Regions from separate parts of the Homo sapiens genome. Here region 2 is linked to region 1. Evidence: fine-mapped expression QTL. A gene starts in region 1. The other region holds a variant in brackets. All regions are shown on one strand. Distances are between the middles of the regions. Region 1 holds the start of CARHSP1 (calcium regulated heat stable protein 1). Region 2 overlaps PMM2 (phosphomannomutase 2).

The links.
Region 2: its variant is fine-mapped to the expression of CARHSP1 in lung (TOPMed, PIP above 0.99).

What each region holds. Positions count from the first base shown.
Region 1 is chr16:8,863,004-8,873,293 of GRCh38, forward strand. CARHSP1 (calcium regulated heat stable protein 1) reads right to left here and starts at 6,003. Exons shown (of 4, transcript NM_014316.4): 1 at 5,963-6,003. It overlaps CARHSP1-DT (CARHSP1 divergent transcript), which reads left to right and starts at 6,278. Exons shown (of 2, transcript NR_186721.1): 1 at 6,278-6,325; 2 at 6,610-7,036. RefSeq lists enhancers at 1,224-1,383, 2,883-3,520, 3,521-4,160, 5,166-5,225 and a silencer at 5,366-6,325.
Region 2 is chr16:8,837,617-8,847,457 of GRCh38, forward strand. All of the region lies in intron 7 of PMM2 (phosphomannomutase 2), which reads left to right. Among named protein-coding and RNA genes, the nearest start is that of CARHSP1, 26 kb to the right of the region's middle. RefSeq lists an enhancer at 8,874-9,465. The variant G/A (reference allele first, on the strand shown) is at 5,469.

The sequences.
Region 1 (10,290 bases):
GTGAGGAGTCTGAGGGCAGCACAGGGCCCCTCTGTGTCCCAAGGGCCCAGCACAGGCACTGGCACAGAGCAGGGTCTCCAGACGGTCCAGGAATGGCCACAAGGATGGCTTTTTTTTTTTTTTTTTTTTTTTTTCAGATAGGATCTCACTTGGTCACCTAGGCTGGAATGCAGTGGCGCGATCATGGCTCACTGAAGCCTCTCAACCTCCTGGGCTCAGGTGATCCGCCCACCCCAGCCTCCTGGGTTGTGGGACTACGGCCACGTGCCACCACAACCAGCTCATTTTTTGTAGAGACAGGGTTTCAATATGTTGCCCAGGCTGGTCTTAAACTCCTGGGCTCAAGCGATCGGCGCACCTTGGCTTCCCAAAGTGCTGGGATTACAGGCGTGAGCCACCACACCCAGCTTCCAAGCCTCATTCTTTGCCAGCATTAGGACCCAAAGCCCCAGCTGGCTGCCACTGCATTGGTGTGCACTCAGCACCATGCCCAGCCCAGCAGGAGGTGGCTACATTCCTGCTCACCTGATAGTGGAAGAAACTGAGGCACGGAGCAGACGTGACTAGGGGCGGGGGCAGTGCCAACTGGGAGACCCAGGAGCTTTATCCAGCCTCTCATGGCCCATCTGGGCTGAAGCCAAGCTGGGGTGGCCAGAGTAGGCCTGGCCAAGGGCCACTCACTCCCCAGTAGGCCCAGCAGAGAGGAGTGAATGGCCTCAGTGCGGGGGAGGGCCGGGCAAAGTCCAGCTGGAAAGAAAACAACTGGGGGGCGGGTAACCAGGCACCCAGAAGCCAGCTCTGAGGCCCTGGCCAGCCTCTGCTGTGTCCCCTCCACAATACACACATACACAAGGATGGGGCCACACAGCAGCCCCGCCCACCAGCACAGTCCCAGCTTCCAGCCAGCCACTGCTCTCCCAGCAATACCAGGCATGGCCTTGGAGTGTCCCCAGCAGAAGACAGGGCCTGCCCTCTGTGACTAGCCTTCAGCTCCCCACAGCTGGGGGAGGGAGGAAGGCTGCAAACAGATCCGCCACTCAGATGAGCTTCTGGCCTGCAACAAACTTCGACCAAATGTCACGACCAAGGTGTCATGACTGCCAGGCTGCATGTACATGTGTGCTCGTTTGTGCACAGGTATGTAGGTGTATGCACATGTGTATGTGTGTGCTGTGTATATACGCATGTGTACACATACATATGTGCCCACACATGGCTGTCTCTGCATCTGAGCGCATACACGTGTATGCATGCGTGAACTTGTTGCCGTCTGTATGCACACGTCCATGGAGCGGGGAGCCTCACCTCACCGCACAGCACGCTGGGCACCTGTGCTGCCACAGGGGACCTTGATGAACTCTGCCACTTCCTATTGAACCAACAGATAAGGGAGTGGGACAGACCATGACTACCACCACCACAGCAGTGTCCTGGGGCCATTCTGCTTACTACTTTACAACACTTCACACAGCCCAGCTCATTCTATCCCCATTTCACTAATGGGAGAACGGAGACACAAAGAGTCAAGTAACTTGCCCAGGGTCGCCCGGCTAACAAAGACCCTGGTGAAATACGGAGTAAGTCAGACAGCAGAAATGCTACGGAGAAAAAGCCAGCAGGGTAAGGGGGAGAGGCTGCACCAGGAGGTGCCCAGCTGGCCATGCACCCCCTTCCCCAGTCAGCCCCCAGGCTCTGATGAGTGCCCGGCCAAGGGAGGGAGCCCAGGGTGGTGGGGGCAGGAAGCCACGCCCACCCTGACTGCCCCAGGGATGGGTGTGTCGGCTGGGAGAAGGGGGCCTCGGCCGAAAATAGCCTGGGAATTTTCCGTAGGCTCTGCAGCTCCTCCTGGAAGGTTCTGGAGTTCAGCTGGGTACCAAGACTCTGGCTTTCCCAGCCCCTGCTCAGCCTGCCCGCATGTCTGGAGACTTACGGCCCAATCATGCAGCCCCCATTACCCACTCCCCAACTTCCTGCCCTCCTGGCCTGAAAACCCACCACCCACATCAATGGGAGCCAAGCAGCCCTGTGCTTACTGCAAGGAGGGCTTTAGCAGTGCTATCAGCCATTTACACTCTAGTAAGAGGGAGCTCATTGAAGGAGACTCCATTCATTTTTGTTTTTGTGAGACAGAATCTCCCTCTGTTGCCCAGGATGGAGTGCAGTGGCACAATCTCAGCTCACTGCAGACCCCCGCCCCCCAGGTTCAAGCGATTCTCCTGCCTTAGCCTCCCGAGTAGCTGGGACTACAGGCATGTACCACCACACCCAGCCAATTGTTGTATTTTTAGTAGAGACGGGGTTTCACCATTTTAGCCAATCTGGTCTCGGACTCCTGACCTCTCATGATTTACCCGCTTCAGCCTCCCAAAGTCCTCGGATTACAGGCATGAGCCACCGTGCCCAGCCAGAGATTCCATTCTTAATAGCTTCAGCCCCTTTATTGAAGACAGGATGATAGAAGGCAGGGGGATAAGAGTTCAAGTCAGACACCTCACTCTTGGCAAAGCGAGAACCTCTCCAAGCCTGCTCTGCAAAATGAGGGTGTCTTGAGCCTTCCATGGGATGCTGGCTGGGGAAGGCCAGGGTTGGGCATGGTGTTGGGGCAGCTTCCAGCCCGGAGCCAGCCCACTGCTGGCAGGTGTGGTGGGTAGTGGCCCGCACTATGGGGATGGGGCAGGCTGTAGTGCTTTCATACACCCTACAGCCACTGTCCACAGACTTCTGCGTCAGGCCCTGTTGGGGGATTACAAACATCAACTACATGCACGTAAACATCGACCCAACAGGGGAGGCACTTTTAGCAGCCCTGTTTTACAGATGAGGAAACTAAGGCACAGAGTTAAGCCAGTGATTCTACTTCCTACTTTAATGCAGTCAGGAATCTCTGGGGATCTTGTTCAAATGCAGATTGCCATTCAGCAGGTGTGGGGTGGGGCCTGAGATTCTTCATTTCTTTTTTATTTTTTTTGAGACAGGGTCTTGCTTTGTTACCCAGGCTGGAGTTTGGTGGCACAATCATGGCTCACTGCAGCCTCAACCTCCTGGGCTCAAGGGATCCTCTCACTTCAGCCTCCCAAGTAGCTGGGACTACAGGCGTGTGCTACCACACCCAGCTAATTTTTTTATTTTTTGTAGAGACAAGGTCTCACTGTGTTGTCCAGGCTGGTCTCGACCTCCCAGGCTCAAGAGATTCTCCCACCCCGGCCTCCCAAAGTGCTGGGATTACAGGCTCCAGATTCCTGGCCAAGATTCTACATTTCTAAGGCGCTCCCAGTGAGGCAGCTGTCCCTGACCCAGGGAACACGGCAGTAGCCGGGCTACACTGGCCCATCTCACAGCCCAAGGCTTAACAGTGCAGGAGGTGGAAGGGAAATGGCGCAGGGATCGGGGTGAGACTCTAGCAGAGTAGCGAAGTTACCTTAGTGCACCTGGGTTCCTCCTTTGTAAACAGACAGAGACACTGAGCTGACCCATCCCAGTCTCCAGCGCAGCTGAGCCCCAGCCTGGGAGAACTGCCGGCACGTGGGCCGAGAGGCGGGGCGGGTCAGCTGAGCCCAGATAGAAGGGTCCCTGGAAGCGATAGAGGCCGAGAACGAGCCAGAGGTTGACGCAGCAGCGTCAGGCTGGCCTAGCCACATTCCCCTCCATTGTTCCGGGGAGAGCGGGGGGTCTGGCGAGGGAGGAGCAGAGAGAGAGGAGGGGGAGGGACACGAAGGGATGGGGGTTGGAGTGTCCAGGGGGAGGGACGGGAGGCAAAGGGGAGGGGGCAGCCAGGCCGGAGTCAGCCCTCCGCTGGCTAAGGACCTGAAGCCAACAGTCACAGAGAAGTGCAAACAGGCGGGCAGGGAAGGTGCAGCCCGGCGCCTACGTCTGCCCAGAGCCCCCTCCCAGGCCCCGCCAAGCTGGGAATAGCTCTTCCGCCCTCAGGAGCCCCTGAGTGCTGGGAAGAGGCCGGAAACCCGAGGAGTGTACCGGGAACCCAAGGGGGCCTCCAACATTGCCATTGCCTGTGCCCCCATTAGCACCCCTGGACGGCCTCGACCGGACGGGCGACCCCACCCAGCAGGGAGACGGTCACCCCACCGCCACCACCCACCTGGGACCCTGCGCCCGCCCCAGTTCTCAGCCTGGACTGCCCCTCCTGCGGGAAGCCCAAGCCCTCCTTCTCAACAAGAACCCTACTCTACACGCCTCCCCCACTCAATCCCTCCATCCTTCCCTCCATTCTCGGGGGGCTTTGGCTCAGACCTGAGATTGAGCCCTGACTGGTCCCCACTCCCTCTGTGACCCCTGCCAGGCGATTTCACCGCCCCACCCGAGTTTCCTCATCTGTCAAAGGGGACAGGAGCGGTGCTGCGTCGCAGGGCTCGGACGCTGTGCAGATGGTGCCGCGAAAATGCCAAGCGCACGGCGGGCTCAGTCCACAATAGTGCGGCTGATGGTGGAAGTGTCAGGCACGGGCCCATCTGAAATCACCTTCCCTCCCATTCCTGCCCCTGCTGATGGAACACAAACCAAATGCGCTGGCTTTGCCACTCGGTGGAACAAAGACCGATCCCCTACCTAGGGGACCCACCGTCAACCACCCTCAACCCCACCCCATGGCCCCACGCCAGGCCTAGCTCAGCTCATTGAAAACATCTACTCCCAGCCGGGCTCTGCGCCTCTTTCTTGCCCTGAAGGGACCAGCATCGAGAACTCACGGTCATCACCGAGGCCACCCAGGGAGTGCAGAGGGCGGTGGGGTCTCCAAGGAGGACCCCGAGCCCAGAGGAGGGCCAAAGGCCCGAAGGGAGGGAGAACAGAGGCAGAGAGAGGCTGGAGAAGGTAGTGGCGGAAGATAACAGGAAGCCCTGCTGAGAAGTTGGGGACTTAGACGACAATGGGACTTCGGTGGACGATTTTCAGCGTGGGGTAGATCTAAGCGGATTGTTTTTCTAAGTTCCCTCTGGCTTCAGAGTGGCAGCAAATGACAGGGGCAAGCAAGACTGGGCACAGAGAGACTGAGAAATATCAAAACAGCAAGTTAAAAAACAGTAGCTTACGTGTCTCCCGGCACGGGGCTAGCTGCCTCCTTTTACTCTCACACACCCTCTCATGCCAGAAGAAGTCAGAGCCCAGTCTGCAGATGGGGAAACTGAGGCTCCGAGAGGCCTCCTATTTGGCAGAGATTTCCCCACCTATTAAGACCCAAGGCCCTGCCTGGAGCGGGACGTCTCCGCCTCCCCCAGCACACACATCCACTCCAACCCCAGAAAACCATAGGGCCGGAGGCTTCCTTTTTAAAAATCAAAAAAGAACATTTCACTTCCGGCCTGCAAACCTGAACCGCCAGCGCAGCCTGCGGAAAGGGGGCCTGTGGGCGCGGGTGAAGTTTTTCTCCAGCGCCTAAGGCACCCCCACCCCCATCCGGGCGCAAACACCCGGGCCCAGCGCGCCCGGCGGCTCCTCCTCCCCCAGATGCGGCTAATCGCGCGGCGCCAGGACGGCTCCCCACCTCCCCCGCCGGGCCTGGCCGCCGTCCCAACCTCGAGCCACAGCTGGCGCGGCCAGGCCCGGCGGGGGGTGGCTCTGCTTCCCGCGTGCGACGCCCCCCGCGCCTCGCCCCACCGCCCGGCGAGTCCCCCGTCCAGGGCTCCCGCCCAAAGGCAAAAGCAGCGGGGAGGGCGGGAAGAGCTTCCCCTGCACGCAGAGAACAGGTGGCCAGGCGGGAAGTACTACCCGACGTCCGCCTAGAATCCTTGCCGCTGTTGCCACACCCACCCCTTCCCCTGGGGAGGAGCAACCCGCGTTCCCCAAACAGGCCCCGAGAAACCCAGCCCGGAGCCCTCCTCTGCCGAGCTAGAAGACCCTGCAGGATGGGGGACGATGGAGGCAGAGGAGGCCGAGGCCCCACCCCTGCGGCTCCCGGGGCCGCGGGCCAGGGGCGCCTATCCTGGGGTCCCCGAGAAGAGCTCCCTACCCTGCAATCCGTTCTGCTCCGCCAGCCGCTTCGCTCCGACTGAGAGCGCGGAGCTGGGGAGGGGGCGTGGCCCGAGGGGGGGTGGGGCGCCGATCCCCGCCCCCAGGAGCTCCCGGCCAATGGGGCTGCGGGAGGGAGCCCGGGACGGTGGGGGCGGGCGGGGCGGGAGTGGCCCGGACAGGACCTTTGTGTCCGCGCCTTAGACTGGCGGGAGAGCGGAACGCAGAGCGCGGGACGTAGGGGCCGGGGCGGGGCGGGGCGGGGCGGAGCTGGGCTGCACCCACCAGCAGAAAACGCCCCTGCAAAGTGGGGGAACTGTGTCCCTGCGCCCGTGCAGTTCCTTCCCCTCGCCACGCGCGCCAGGTGCGGCTCCCACCTGCCTTTGGCTCTAAAATCTGTATAATCCCGGAGGGTGTCACTTTTAGCAGAAAGGAAATAAAGGAATGAAAAGAGAGACGGAAGAAAACAAGCAAAAAACAGAAAGGAGGAAAAGGGAAAGAAAAAATACACACGCACACACACACCAGAAAAACAGGGTTTTGTTTTCTCGTTGGGGATTTTGATTTTGTTCTCTTCTCTTGTTTCATTTCTAGCCTTCCTTGAGTCCTCTGTTTTTGGAGGTAAAAAATGTTACCTCTGTTTTGCAGGAGAGGAAACTGAGGCACAGAGAGGCGACCAGCCCATGGGCACGGCCAGTCGAGAGCAGCCCCTGAAGGCGAGCCTAGATCCCGGGACCAGGGTCAGCTTGGTATTTGAGGGGCGCGGGGAAGGAGAGAGGTCCCCGGAGCTCGCCCGGGACAACAGGGCCCCCGGAGGCGGCGGTGAGGACTGTGCCTGCCTCACTCTGCAGCCCCTATTGGGGCCACTGGGGAAAAGGCCCAGCAGCGAAACCAACTAGTCCAAGCCAGGCAAGGAACCGTCCTAGACGGCTGGTGGGAACAACCGCGCAGCTGCTGTGGAAAAAGCCCGGCGGTTCCTCAAACCACGAGCCCTGGAGTCTCCATAAAACCCATCAACTCCACTCCTAGGTGTCTGCGCGCCCAAGAGAAATAAAAATGTTTGTCCACACAAAAATTTACTTGAGGCCGGGTGCGGTGGCTCACGCCTGTAATTCCAGCTCTTTGGGAGGCCGAGGCAGGAGGATCACTTGAGCTCAGGAGTTGGAGACCAGCCTGGCCAACATGGCGAAACCCCGTGTCTATGAAAAATACAAAAATTTGCCGGGCTTGGTGGCGGGTGCCTGTAATCCCAGTTACTTGGGAGACTGAGGCAGGAGAATCACTTGAACCCGGGAGGTGGAGGTTGCAGTGAGCCAGGATCATGCCACTGCACTCCAGCCTGGGCGACAGCGAGTCTCCGTCTCGGGGGGGAAAAAAAGTTAAAAATAAATAAATAGGCCGGGCGCGGTGGCTCACGCCTGTAATCCCAGCACTTTGGGAGGCCGAGGCGGGCGGATCACGAGGTCAGGAGAACGAGACCACGGGGAAACCCCGTCTCTATTAAAAATATTAAAAATTAGCCGGGCGCGGTGGCGGGCCCCTGTAGTCCCAGCTACTCGGGAGGCTGAGGCAGGAGAATGGCGTGAACCCGGGAGGCGGAGCTTGCAATGAGCCGAGATAGTGCCACTGCACTCCAGCCTGCCTGGGCGACAGAGCAAGACTCCATCTCAAAAATAAATAAATAGATAAATAATGATTTACTTGTTGGGCTGGGCGTGGTGGCTCACGCCTGTAATCCCAGCACTTTGGGAGACCGAGACAGGAGGATCTCTTAAGCCCAGGAGTTTATGACCAGCCTGGACAACATAGTAAGACCCCTTCTTTACCAAAAAAAAAAAAGTTTTAATTAGCCAGGAGTAGTAGCACCCACCTGTAGTCCCAGCTACTGGGGAGGCTGAGGTGGGAGGATCCCTTGAGCCCAGGAGATCGAGGCTGCTGTGATCCGTGACTGCACTGCTGCACTCCAGCCTGGGTGACAGAGTAAGATTTATAGCAGTATTACTCATAGTAGCCAAAAGGGAGAAACAGCTCAGATGTCCATCAAGTGATGAAAGGATAAACAAAATGTTGTGTATCTATACAGTAGACAACTATTCACTCATCAACAGGAATGAAATCTTGATGCAAGCTACAACATAGAGGAACCTTGAAAATATGCTAAGAGAAAGAAGCCACACAAAGGCCGCACTTTGTGTGATTCCATCTGTATGAAATGTTCTGAATGGGCAAATCTCTAGAAACAGGAAGTAGATTAAGGGTTGCCAGAGGCTGGGGGTGGGGGTGCGGGCTAGACGGTTGATACTTAAAAGGTACAGGGGTTTCTTTTTGAGATGATGAAAATGTGCTGAAAGTGATGGTGGCGATAGTTGCACAAGTCCGTGGATATACTAAAAATCATTGCATTGTGTGCTTTCAATGGGTGAACTGTATGGTGTGTGAATTATGACTCAGTTAAGCTGTTTTTAAAAAGTCAAGGCCAGGCACAGTGGCTCATGCCTGTAACCCCAGTACTTTGGGAGGCCTGGGAGGGCGGATCACTTGAGCTCAGGAGTTCACAACCAGCCCAGCCAACATGGTGAAACCCTGTCTCTACTAAAAATACAAAACTTATCCCGGTATGATGGTGCACACCTGTTATCCCAGCTACTCGGGAGGCTGAGGCATGAAAATTGCTTGAACCTGAGAAGTGGAAGTTGCAGTGAGCCGAGATTGTGCCACTGCAGTCCAGCCTGGGCGACAGAGCCAGACTCCACCTCAATAAATAAATAAATAAACAAATAAACAAGCGGGGACACTGGGGTGGGGGTGGGGGGAGGCCATGACCAGGAGGGGCACAAGGTGGGATTCTAGGATCTGGTAAACTTCTGTCCCTCAGTCTGGGTACCTGGGTGGGTTCACTTTATGAAAATTCATCCACGGCCAGGTGCTGTGGCTCATGCCCATAATCCCAGCTACTTGGGAGCCCAAGACAGGAGGATGCCTAGAAGCCAGGAGTTCAAGACAAGCCTGGGCAACATAGCATATTTTATTTCTAAAATTAAAAAAAGAGGAAGAAAGAAAGGGAGGGAGGGAGGAGTGAGAGAGAGAGAAAGAAAGAAAAAAGAAAAAGGGCTGGGCACAGTGGCTCATGCCTATAATCCCAACACTTTGGGAGTCTGAGGCAGGCACATCATGTGAGCGCAGGTGTCAGAAGTTACAGTGAGCTATGATCATGCCACTGCACTCCTGGGCAACAGAGGGAGGCCCTGTCTGTAAACAAACAAACAAACACGGACTTTGCTTTTTAGGGCAGTTTAGGTTTACAGCAAAATTGAGCAGAAAGGGCTGGGCCTAGTGGCTCACACCTGTAATCCCGGCACTTTGGGAGGATCACCAGAGGTCAGGATTTGAGACCAGCCTGGCCAGCATGGTGGAACCCTGTCTTTACTAAAATAACAAAAATTAGCTGGGCGTGGTGGTAGCGCCTGTAATCCCAGCTACTCAGGAACCTGAGGCTGCAGAATTGCTTGAACCCAGGAGGCAGAGGTTGCAGTGAACCGAGATCGCGCCACTGCACTCCAGCCTGGGCACCAGAGTGAGTCTCCATCTCAAAAAAAAAAAAAATAGCTGGATGTGGTGGCACATGCCTCTGGTCCCAACTACTTGGGAGGCTGAGGCAGGAGGATACATTGAGCCCAGTAAGTCGAGGCTGCAATGAGCCATGATTGCACCACTGCACTCCAGTCTGGCAATACAGTGAGAAATCCCGTCTCAAAACAAAACAAAACAAAACAAAAAAACTGACCAGGCGTGGTGGCTCACACCTGTAATCCCAGCACTTTGGGAGGCTGAGGCAGGCGGATCACCTGAGGTCGGGAGTTTGACACCAGCCTGAGCAACATGGAGAAACCCAGTCTCTGACAAACTACAAAATTAGCTGGGCATGGTGGTGCTTGCCTGTAATCCCAGCTACACGGGAGGCTGAGGCAGGAGAATCAACCGGGAGGTGGAGGTTGCCGTGAGTTGAGATCGCACCATTGCGCACCAGCCTGGGCAACAAGAGCGAAACTCCATCTAAAAAAAAAAAAAAATGCTGAGCAGAAAATACAGGGATTTTCCAAACACTCCTGACCAGCACACACGCACAGCACCCCCTCGCTATCCACATCACACGCCCGAGTGGTACATTTGTTACAGTGGGTGAACCTACACTGACACGTCATCGCCCAGAATCCGTGGTTTAAATGCGGGTCACTCCTGGAGCTGTACGTTCTATTTGTTTGAACAAATGTATAATGGCATGGATCTCCCATTACAGTGTCATACAGAGTTCTTTCACTCCCTGAAAAA
Region 2 (9,841 bases), 26 kb before region 1:
AGAAATAAGGGATCGGGGCGCAGAGATACATGGGGTTGGGGTACTTACCCCTCCCCTAGAAAAGCAGAGAAGGGGTAGAGACACGGAGAGAAGGGGTTGGTGTACTTGCCTCTCCGCCAGAAAAGTGGGACTTGCCGCTAAGGGTGAAGGACCAAGGCAGGCGTCCCTGCATGGTCTGACACCTTTGAAACGTGGGTAAATAATCAGGCGTCCCTGCAGTGATTAAACACCAAGGGAAGGCTGCCTTCCCAGTCTCTGACCGGCGCCGGAGTTTTGAGTCCACAGATAAAATGTGTCTCCTTTGTCTCTACCAGAAAATGAAAGGAATTGAAATTAAGGGAGAGATTGAAGTGTTTCATGCGCGTCCGTGTGAAGAGACCACCAAACAGGCTTTGTGTGAGCAACATGGCTGTTTATTTCACCTGGGTGCAGGCGGGCTGAGTCCGAAAAGAGAGTCAGCAAAGGGTGGTGGATTATCATTAGTTCTTATGGGTTTTGGGATAGGCGGTGAAGTTAAGAGCAATGTTTTGTGGGCAGGAGTGGATCTCACAAAGTACATTCTCAAGAGTGGGGAGAATTACAAAGAACCTTCTTAAGGGTGGGGGAGATTACAAAGTACATTGATCAGTTCGGGTGGGGCAGAAACAAATCACAATGGTGGAATGTCATCAGCTAAGGCTATTTTTACTTCTTTTGTGGATCTTCATTTACTTCAGGCCATCTGGATGTATACGTGCAAGTCATAGGGGATGCGATGGCTTGGCTTGGGCTCAGAGGCCTGACATTCCTGCCTTCTTATGTTAATAAGAAAAATAAAATAGTGTTGAAGTATTGGGGCGGTGAAAATTTTTGGGGGGTGGTATGGAGACAGAATGGGCGATGTTTCTCAGGGCTGCTTCAAGCGGGATTAGGGGCGGCGTGGGAACCTAGAGTGGGAGAGATTAAGCTGAAGGGAGGTCTTGTGGTAAGGGGTGATATTGTGGGGATGTTAGAAGAAACATTTGTTGTATAGAATGATTGGTGATGGTCTGGATACAGTTTTGGATGAATTGAGAAACTAAACAGAAGATCCAAGGTCCAAATAAAAGAAGGAGAAAAATGGGTATTAAAGGACTAAGAATTGGGAGGACCTAGGACATCCAATTAGAGAGTGCGTAAGGGGGTTCAGCGTAATTACTTGCTTGGTTGGCAAGTTTTTGGGCTCTATGCTTGAGTTTTTTTATGTTGTCATACATCAGGCCAGATTGATTTAGGTAAAAACAACACTCTTCATTTAAGAATATGCAGAGTCCTCTTTTTTCAACAGTGAGTAAGCAAGGCCTCGGTGGTTTTGGAGGACAACTGCAGCTAAAGAGTCAACTTGGGCCTGGAGGACTGATAAAGTTTGTGACATGTCTGTGATGCTAGCAGAGAAGTCATTAGACAGGCTACGGAAGGTCATGACAGAGGTTGAAATGCCTGCTATTCCAGTACCGAGAGCAATAGTGGAGGCAGAAAGTCCTAAACCGACCATCAAGGGAATTAGTGGAATGACTCTTCTTTGTTGTGTCGGTGTCATGAGGGGAACAGGGAGCTCTTCGTTCCTATTTGCAAATTGAATTTTGGGAGTAAGGAAGACTAGTGTGCATGTGCCTGTCCAATTAGCAGGTAGACACATGTTAGGTAAAGGATCCACAGAGGAAGAAGAGACCTTGTGCGAGGCAAAACTGGAGATGTAAAGTAAAAAGATGAGGAGTGCTGCAAGGGGTGTCTTGTACCTAGAGTCCTAGGGATCCAGCTAGGGCGGCAGCTGTCAGAGGTTGTAATGGGGACTGATGGGGTAACTGCATAGAGGGGGAGGTTCGATTTTCATGGTGTATGAGAAAACGTTGAGTATCTACAAGCAACCTTTCACTATTATTTTCGGGGCTGGGTAAAAGTAAACAAGAGGAGGGCCTGGGAGGAAGAGTCTGATGAGCAAGGGGAAAGTAGCCAAGGATGGAGTGAAATACAGGGCAAGTGTCTTCCTAAGCAATAATTACTGCTAATGTTTTTAAGTTTGTCAGTATTGATAGCGGGCTTGTCTGTAATATGGAGCTGGAAGGCTCCCATTGTTTGAGTGATGTGTGTAGTTGGACTTTGGAGATGAAGAGTAAAGGAACATCGAGAAGGTGAAAGATTACCTAGGGGAATTCCAGTGGGTCTTTGCCGAGAGATACATATAGGAGCGGCCACAGGCATAGTAGTTTGTGTTGTGAGAGGTCCGAATATGGGGGGAGAAAGGAGAAAGGAGAAAGGTTTTTTAAATAAGTGTGAAGGAGGGCGGCAGCTTGCTGATGTGAAATGTCTGGGGAAGTCTTGCTGGACCTGTCTAGAAAGTAAATGAGTTCTTCAGGAGGGTAAAGGTGAGGGCTGTTACAGGAAGTTCGGAGGTGTAGGGAGATGGGAGATGTTGCCCAGTCTGTCTGTAAGGTGGGGACAGCTGTGTAGGCACTGGAAGAAAGGGAAATGCAAAGCCAGCAGTTGTTCACTAAGGAGGGATTAGAAGCGGCTAGGAGAGAATGGGTAAGGTTGATAGTGTGGTGGAGATAGCTGGGGAGAGGTAGAGGGTGGCATAAGAATGGGAATGAGAATAAGAGTGAGTATAAAAGTAAAGAATAGAACTTCATCAGGGTGGAAATATTGGAGGGTGCCTTGCCAGCAAAGATCATCTATCCACTCTAAGAGGGAGTTAAGAGTGGCAGTTTGGGGATAGCACCAAGAGATATCAGCTGTGATGGCTTGAAGAAACAGTGTAAACCGGCCGTGTAAACAAGAGTAGGGCATTTATAAGTAGTTGAGAATGGAGAATAGGAGTATGACCAGACAGAAGATAGTAGGGATGACTAGTTTTTTGGGGCTCGGCCTAAGTGGTGGGGGTGACTTCGTAAAGCCCTGTTGCAAAAAGTAGGGTAAGGACGAAAAACCTAATAGAATGAAGGGATGTATTAGGCTCATAAGGGTTATGACTGTTCTTCGAAATACGACTGAGTTTAAGGGAAGTAGGGGAGAGTACTTGCAACTTCCAGGAGGAAGAGGAGGGATTAGGCTGGCTGTCCGATGGACACAGCTTTATTCTGGAACGGTGAGCCTAGTGGGGAGGATCCTGCAGGCGGACAGCAGTCGGGGTACTATAGATGACTAAGTAGGGTCCGGTCCATCGAGGTTGTAGAGTTTGAGGAGTCAGATTAACAAGAACTGATCGTCCAGCTAGGGTGTCTTCATATGGCTGGGGATCTGGAGTAGGCAAGAGAAGCTTAGCAGCCTGGCGAATTTCCTGTCTAGCCTGCTGGAGGACTGGAAGACAGTCGCCTAGAGGGCTGGTGTCTGGGATGAGGTTGGGGCCAAGCAAGAAAGTGCGTCCATATAAAAGTTCAAATGGACTGTACCTACCCTGTAGCATCTCGAGAACAGGCTCTAATTCTGAGAAGAGCAAGAAGTAAAAGTACTGTCCAATCCTTTTTAAGTTGGAGGCTGAGCTTGGTGATGTGTACCTTTAAAAGACCATTAGTCCGTTCTACCTTTCCTGAAGATTGAGGACTGTAAGGGATATGAAGGTTCCACTGAATACTAAGAGCCTGAGAAACTGCTTGGGTGATTTGACTAGTAAAGGCTGGTCCGTTATCAGACTGTATAGAGGTGGGAAGGCTAAACTGAGGAATTATGTCTGACAGAAGGGAAGAAATGACTGCGGTGGCCTTCTCAGACCCTGTAGGAAAGGCCTCTACTTATCTAGTGAAAGTGTCTACTTAGACTAAGAGGTATTTTAGTTATCTGACTCGGGGCATGTTGAGTGAAGCTAATTTGCCAGTCCTGGGTGGGGGCAAATCTTCAAGCTTGATGTGTAGGGAAGGGAAGGGGCCTGAATAATCCCTGAGGAGTAGTAGAATAGCAGATGGAACACTGAGAAGTTATTTCCTTGAGGATAGATTTCCACGATGGAAAGGAAATGAGAGGTTCTAAGAGGCGGGCTAGTGGCTTGTACTATAGCATAGCCTGCCTTTGCTGCTATGTGGCGATTAGGCCTGGTGGAACCGCCATCAATAAATCAAGCGTGATCAGGGTGAGGAACAGGAAAGAAGGAAATATGGGGAAATGGGGTGAATGTCAGGTGGATCAGAGAAACACAGTCATGGGGGTCAGGTGTGGTATCAGGAATAATGTGGGAGGCCAGATTGAGGTCCGGGCCAGGAACAATGGTAATTGTGGGACTTAACAAAGAGTGAGTACAGCTGAAGGAGCCGGGGAGCAGAAAGTATATGCATCAGGTATGAGGAAGAAAATGGATTTTGGAAGTTATGAGAAATGTAGAGAGTGAGTTGAGCATAGTTTGTGATTTTTACGGCCTCTAAAAGTATTAAAGCAGCGGCAGCCGCTGCACGCAGACATGAGGGCTAGGCTAAAACAGTAAGGTCAAGTTGTTTGGACAGAAAGGCTACAGGGTGTGGTCCTGGCTGTTGTGTAAGAATTCTGACCGCACTAACCATGCCTAGGAAGGAAGGGAGTTGTTGTTTTGGAAGGGATTGAGGTTTGGGAGATTAATCAGACAAGATCAACAGGCAGAGCACGTGTGTTTTTATGAGAATTATGCCGAGATAGGTAACAGATGAGGATGAAATTTGAGCTTTGGAGGGGGATACCTGATATCCTTTGGAGAGTAAATGCTGAAGGAGCAGAAGTGTGTCTTGTTGAGAAGATTCAAAGGAGGGGCTACAAAGAAGAAGGTCATCAATATATTAAATAAGGTGAGAAGCGGAGGGGTGGAAAGAAAGTAGATCATGAGAAAGAGCTTGGCTGAAGTAATGAGGGCTGTCCCTGAAACCTTGTGGCAGCACAGCCCAGGTAAGCTGCTGGGACTGATGGGTGTCAGGGTCAGTCCAGGTGAAAGCAAAGAGAGGCTGGGACAAGGGGTGCAGGGGAACGCTGAAAGAAGCATCTTTAAGATCAAGTGTGGAATAGTGAGTTGTGGAGGAAGGTATTGAGGATGAAAGAGTGTATGGGTTGGGCACCACAGGGTGGATAGGCAAAACAATTTGGTTGATAAGGCGCAGATCCTGAACTAATCTGTAAGACTTGTCCGGTTTCTGGACAGGTAAAATGGGGGGATTATAAGAAGAGTTTATAGGTTTTAGAAGCCTATGCTGTAGCAGGCCAGTGATAACAGGCTTTAATCCTTTTAAAGCGTGCTGTGGGATGGGATATTGGCGTTGAGCGGGGTAAGGGTGATTAGGTTTTAATGGGATGGTAATGGGCATGTGATCAGTTGTCAGGGAAGGAGTAGAAATGTCCCATATTTGTGGGTTAAGGTGGGGGGATATGAGAGGAAGACGCAAAGGAGGCTTTGGGTTGGGGAGAAGGGCGGCAATGAGATGCGGCTGTAGTCCAGGAATAGTCAGGGAAGCAGATAATTTGCTTAAAATATCTCGGCCTAATAAGGGAACTGGGCAGGT[G/A]GGGATAACTAAAAATGAGTGCTTCAAAGAGTAATGTCTAAGTTGGCACCAGAGTTGGGGAGTTTTAAGAGGTTTAGAAGCCTGGCCGTCCATACCCACAACAGTTATGGAGGCAAGGGAAACAGGCCCTTGAAAAGAAGGCAACATGGAGTGGGTAGTCCCCGTTTCGATTAAACAGTGGGTGGACTTACCCTCCACTGTGAGAGTTACCCAAAGCTTGGCGTCCGTGATGGTCTGGGGGCTTCCAAGGCGATTGGGCAGCGTCAATCTTCAGCCGCTAAGCCAAGGAGTCAGTCAGAGAGCCTTGGGCCAGAGTTCTAGGGGCTCTGGGAGTGGCTGCCAGGTGAGTTGAACAGTCCGATTTCCAGTGGGGTCCCGCACAGATGGGACACGGCTTAGGAGGAATCCTGGGCTGCAGGCATTCCTTGGCCCTGGTAGTCAGATTTCTGGCACGTGTAGCAAGCTCCTGGGGGAGGAGGTTCTGGAGGAACGCCTGGCCGCTGCGGTTCAGGCATTTGGAAGTTCTTGTGTGCTGGAGATGTGGCTGGGGTTTGTCTCACAGTGGAGGCAAGGAATTGCAACTTTTTTCTATTATTGTACACCTTGAAGGTGAGGTTAATTAAGTCCTGTTGTGGAGTTTGAGGGCCAGATTCTAATTTTTGGAGTTTTATTTAATGTCGGGAGCAGATTGGGTAATAAAATGTATATTGAGAATAAGACGGCCTTTTGACCTTTTAGGGTCTAGGGGCTGAGGAAGAATTGGAACCTAGCTCGGCCTGGCGAGGAGGGGAGAGGTCAGATGGGTCTGTAGAAAAGGAAGATTAGAAAGACTCAGCAACGCTTGGGGTTGGGACTGAGGGGACAGGCGGGAGGGAAAGAAGGAAGATTTGGGACGAGTTGCACTGGGCACAGAGACTAGGAAGGGACTGATGTGTAAAAGAATGCCTGGACATCAGGCACCTCAGACTGTTTGCCCATTTTACGACAAGAATTATTTAGATCTTGCAGGATGGAAAAATTGAAAGTGCCGTTTTCTGGCTATTTGGAACTACTGTCGAGTTTGTATTGGGGTCAAGCGGCATTGCAGAAGAAAATAAGGCATTTATTTAGGTTTTAGGTCAGGTATGAGTTGAAGAGGTTTTAAGTTCTTGAGAACACAGGCTAAGGGAGAAGAAGGAGGAATGTAGGAAGGTTGCCCATAGTGAAGGAGGCAAGCCCAGAGAAAAGAGAGCGTAGAGACATGGAGGGAAGGGGTTTGGGGGTTCTTACCCTCCAGAAAAGCGGGAAAGGGGTTGGGGCATGGAAATAAGGGATTGGGGCACAGAGATACGAGTTTGGGGTACTTGCCTCTCCCCCAGAAAAGCGGGACTTGCCGCTAAGGGTGAAGGAGAAGGGGTTGGGGGGTTCTTGCCCCTGCCCCAGAAAATCAGAGAAGGGGTAGAGACACGGAAAGAAGGGGTTGGGGTCCTTGCCCCTTCCTCAGAAAAGCGGGACTTGCCGCTAAGGGTTATGGACCAAGGCAGGTGTCCCTGCGTGGTCTGACACCTCTGAAACGTGGGTGAATGATCAGAGGCGTCCTTGCAATGATTAAACACCAAGGGAAGGCTGCCTTCCCAGTCCGTGACCGGCGCCGGTTTTTTGGGTCCACAGATAAAACGTCTCCTTTGTCTCTACCAGAAAATGAAAGGAATTGAAATTAAGAGAAGGGAGAGATTGAAGTGTGGCGCCTAGATTGAAAGGAGAAAGACGGTGAGGGATAGGGAGGTTGGAGAAGAGAGTAAAAAGAGGCTGCTTATTGGATTTGAAATTGGTGAGATGTTTCTTGGGCTGGTGGGTCTGAGGACCTGAGGTCGTAGGTGGATCTTTCTCATGGAGCAAAGAGCAGGAGGATAGGGGATTGATCTCCCAAGGGAGGTCTCCCGATCTGAGTCACGGCACCAAATTTCATGCGCGTCCATGTGAAGAGACCACCAAACAGGCTTTGTGTGAGCAACATGGCTGTTTATTTCACCTGGGTGCAGGCGGGCTGAGTCCGAAAAGAGAGTCGGCAAAGGGTGGTGGATTATCATTAGTTCTTATGGGTTTTGGGATAGGCGGTGAAGTTAAGAGCAATGTTTTGCGGGCAGGGGTGGATCTCACAAAGTACATCCTCAAGAGTGGGGAGAATTTCAAAGAACCTTCTTAAGGGTGGGGGAGATTACAAAGTACATTGATCAGTTCGGGTGGGGCAGAAACAAATCACAATGGTGGAATGTCATCAGTTAAGGCTATTTTTACTTCTTTTGTGGATCTTTAGTTACTTCAGGCCATCTGGATGTACACGTGTAAGTCATAGGGGATGCGATGGCTTGGCTTGGGCTCAGAGGCCTGACAGTAGGTGTTCTAGAAAGGTGTGTTGTGTTAATGTGTGAATACTGACTCCCCTCCTCAGTCACTGAGGCGGGGAGGGTGTTTGGCTCTTTTGAGGCATGTGAGAGTTGGTTGTGCCTTTGGTTTTTTGTTTGTTTTTTTTTCTTTTGAGTCTCGCTCTGTTGCCCAGGCTGAAGTACAGTGGTCTGTTCTTGGCTCACTGCAATCTCCGCCTCCCAGGTTCAAGTGATTCTCCTGCCAAGCAGCTGGGATTACAGGTGCGCACCACCACACCCAGCTAGGTTGTGCCTTTGTTAGGTTCTCTGTGACTTTTACCCACTGTGCCATTCCTGAAAGAAATCTTTTTTTTTTTTTTTTTAATTAGAAGAATTACTGGAACTAGCTTGGCACTGTTGGACACAGTCTTTGTCTCAGCTACTCGAGAGGCTGAGGCAGGAGGTTCGCTCGAGCCCAGCCTGGGCAACATAGCAAGACCCTATGTCCGAAGGAAAAAAAAGGCAAAATCAGAATTACCAGAACTGATTTCACATGTGTAGGTAGCAGATGGTGGCCATGCAATTCAGGTCTGTCTGAAGGCCCCCAGGCCTGGTACAAAACTGTGTAAGGCCAGTACAAGGCCCTGACAGGTTCCCAAGTGGCTGGACTGGAAGAGATGCCAAGTTCATGGCCTCCTAACCTGACTCCACCCAGCACTCCCTGGGCCCAGCGACGTTCCCTCCTGAAGCCTGAAATTCACCTCCACCTGAGGAGGCCATCTGCCTGGGGATAGGTTCTTGCAAAAATGAAAACACTCATTTCCAGAGGCAATTAATTCTTTTAAAGGATGTCAGATTTTTGGTACAAAATCATGGTTTCCACGTTGGCTTCATGCTCGGTGCTTTATGAGAAAAATCCCTTTTTTCTACGGTTGTGTTCATTGTATTGTAAAGCAATCGTAGATTATTTTAAGGTTTTGAGTTAGAGTGATTATCCAATTTTATGAGGGAAATAAAGGAATTCCATGAGAAAAACGGGGGCTTTCCTGCAGGGCTCGGGGTTGCGGGAGCGGCAGATAACCTGATTCATTAACGTGAGCCCAGTGGGATTGGTGGGGGTGATGGGGACACAGATGGGAGCACTCAACTCAGGCACAGGACCCCAGCAGAACATGCCCAGGTCCTCCTAGACATGGGCCCTTGCAGACTTTCTGAGGCCTCGGTTTCGTCATCTTACCAAGGTGTGACCCCAACCATCATCTCCTGAACTTCTGGCCACAGAGCTGTGAGCAAGCTTCCATCATGACCCCATTTTGGAGATGGGGAGTTGGCGCAGCCACACTGCTGCTCAGTGGTAGAACCAGCATCTGACCCAGGCCACCTGTTCCAGAGACCCTGCTTTTAGCCAGCAGCTCAGACCCCAGTCATGTGGGGCCATTTATTTATTTATTTAAGATAGAGTCTCCCTTTGTCGCCCAGGCTGGAGTGCAGTGGTGCGATCTCGGCTTACTGCAACTTCCACCTCCCGAGTTCAAGCAATTCTCCTGCCTCAGCCTCCCGAGCAGCTGGGATTTCAGACGTGCGCCACCATGCCCAGCTAATTTTTGTATTTTAAGTAGAAATGGAGTTTTGCTGTGTTAGCCAGGTTGGTCTCAAATTCCTGACCTCAAGTGATCCACCCTTCTCAGCCTCCCAAAGTGCTGGGATTACAGGCATGAGCCACCATGCCCGGCCCACGTGGGGCTGTTTAAATTAAAATCAAATTAACTGAGTTCCTCCATTGCATTGGCCACGTTTCAAGTGTGCAGAGTGACACATGGCCAGTGGCTGCCATCACCGCTGATGTCGCCACGTCCCTCATCACAGGAATATCCCTGGCAGCCCTGCTCCCGGCCCTCTGCCCTCCTGACGCTCCCTTGTGACTTGTTAGAAAAGCGTAGGTACAGCTAAAAAAAAAAAAAAAACTGATGGCTGTGAGAATACTGTCACTCGCTGATGCCTTCTGTGTAGAAAAATAAGCCTTAGACA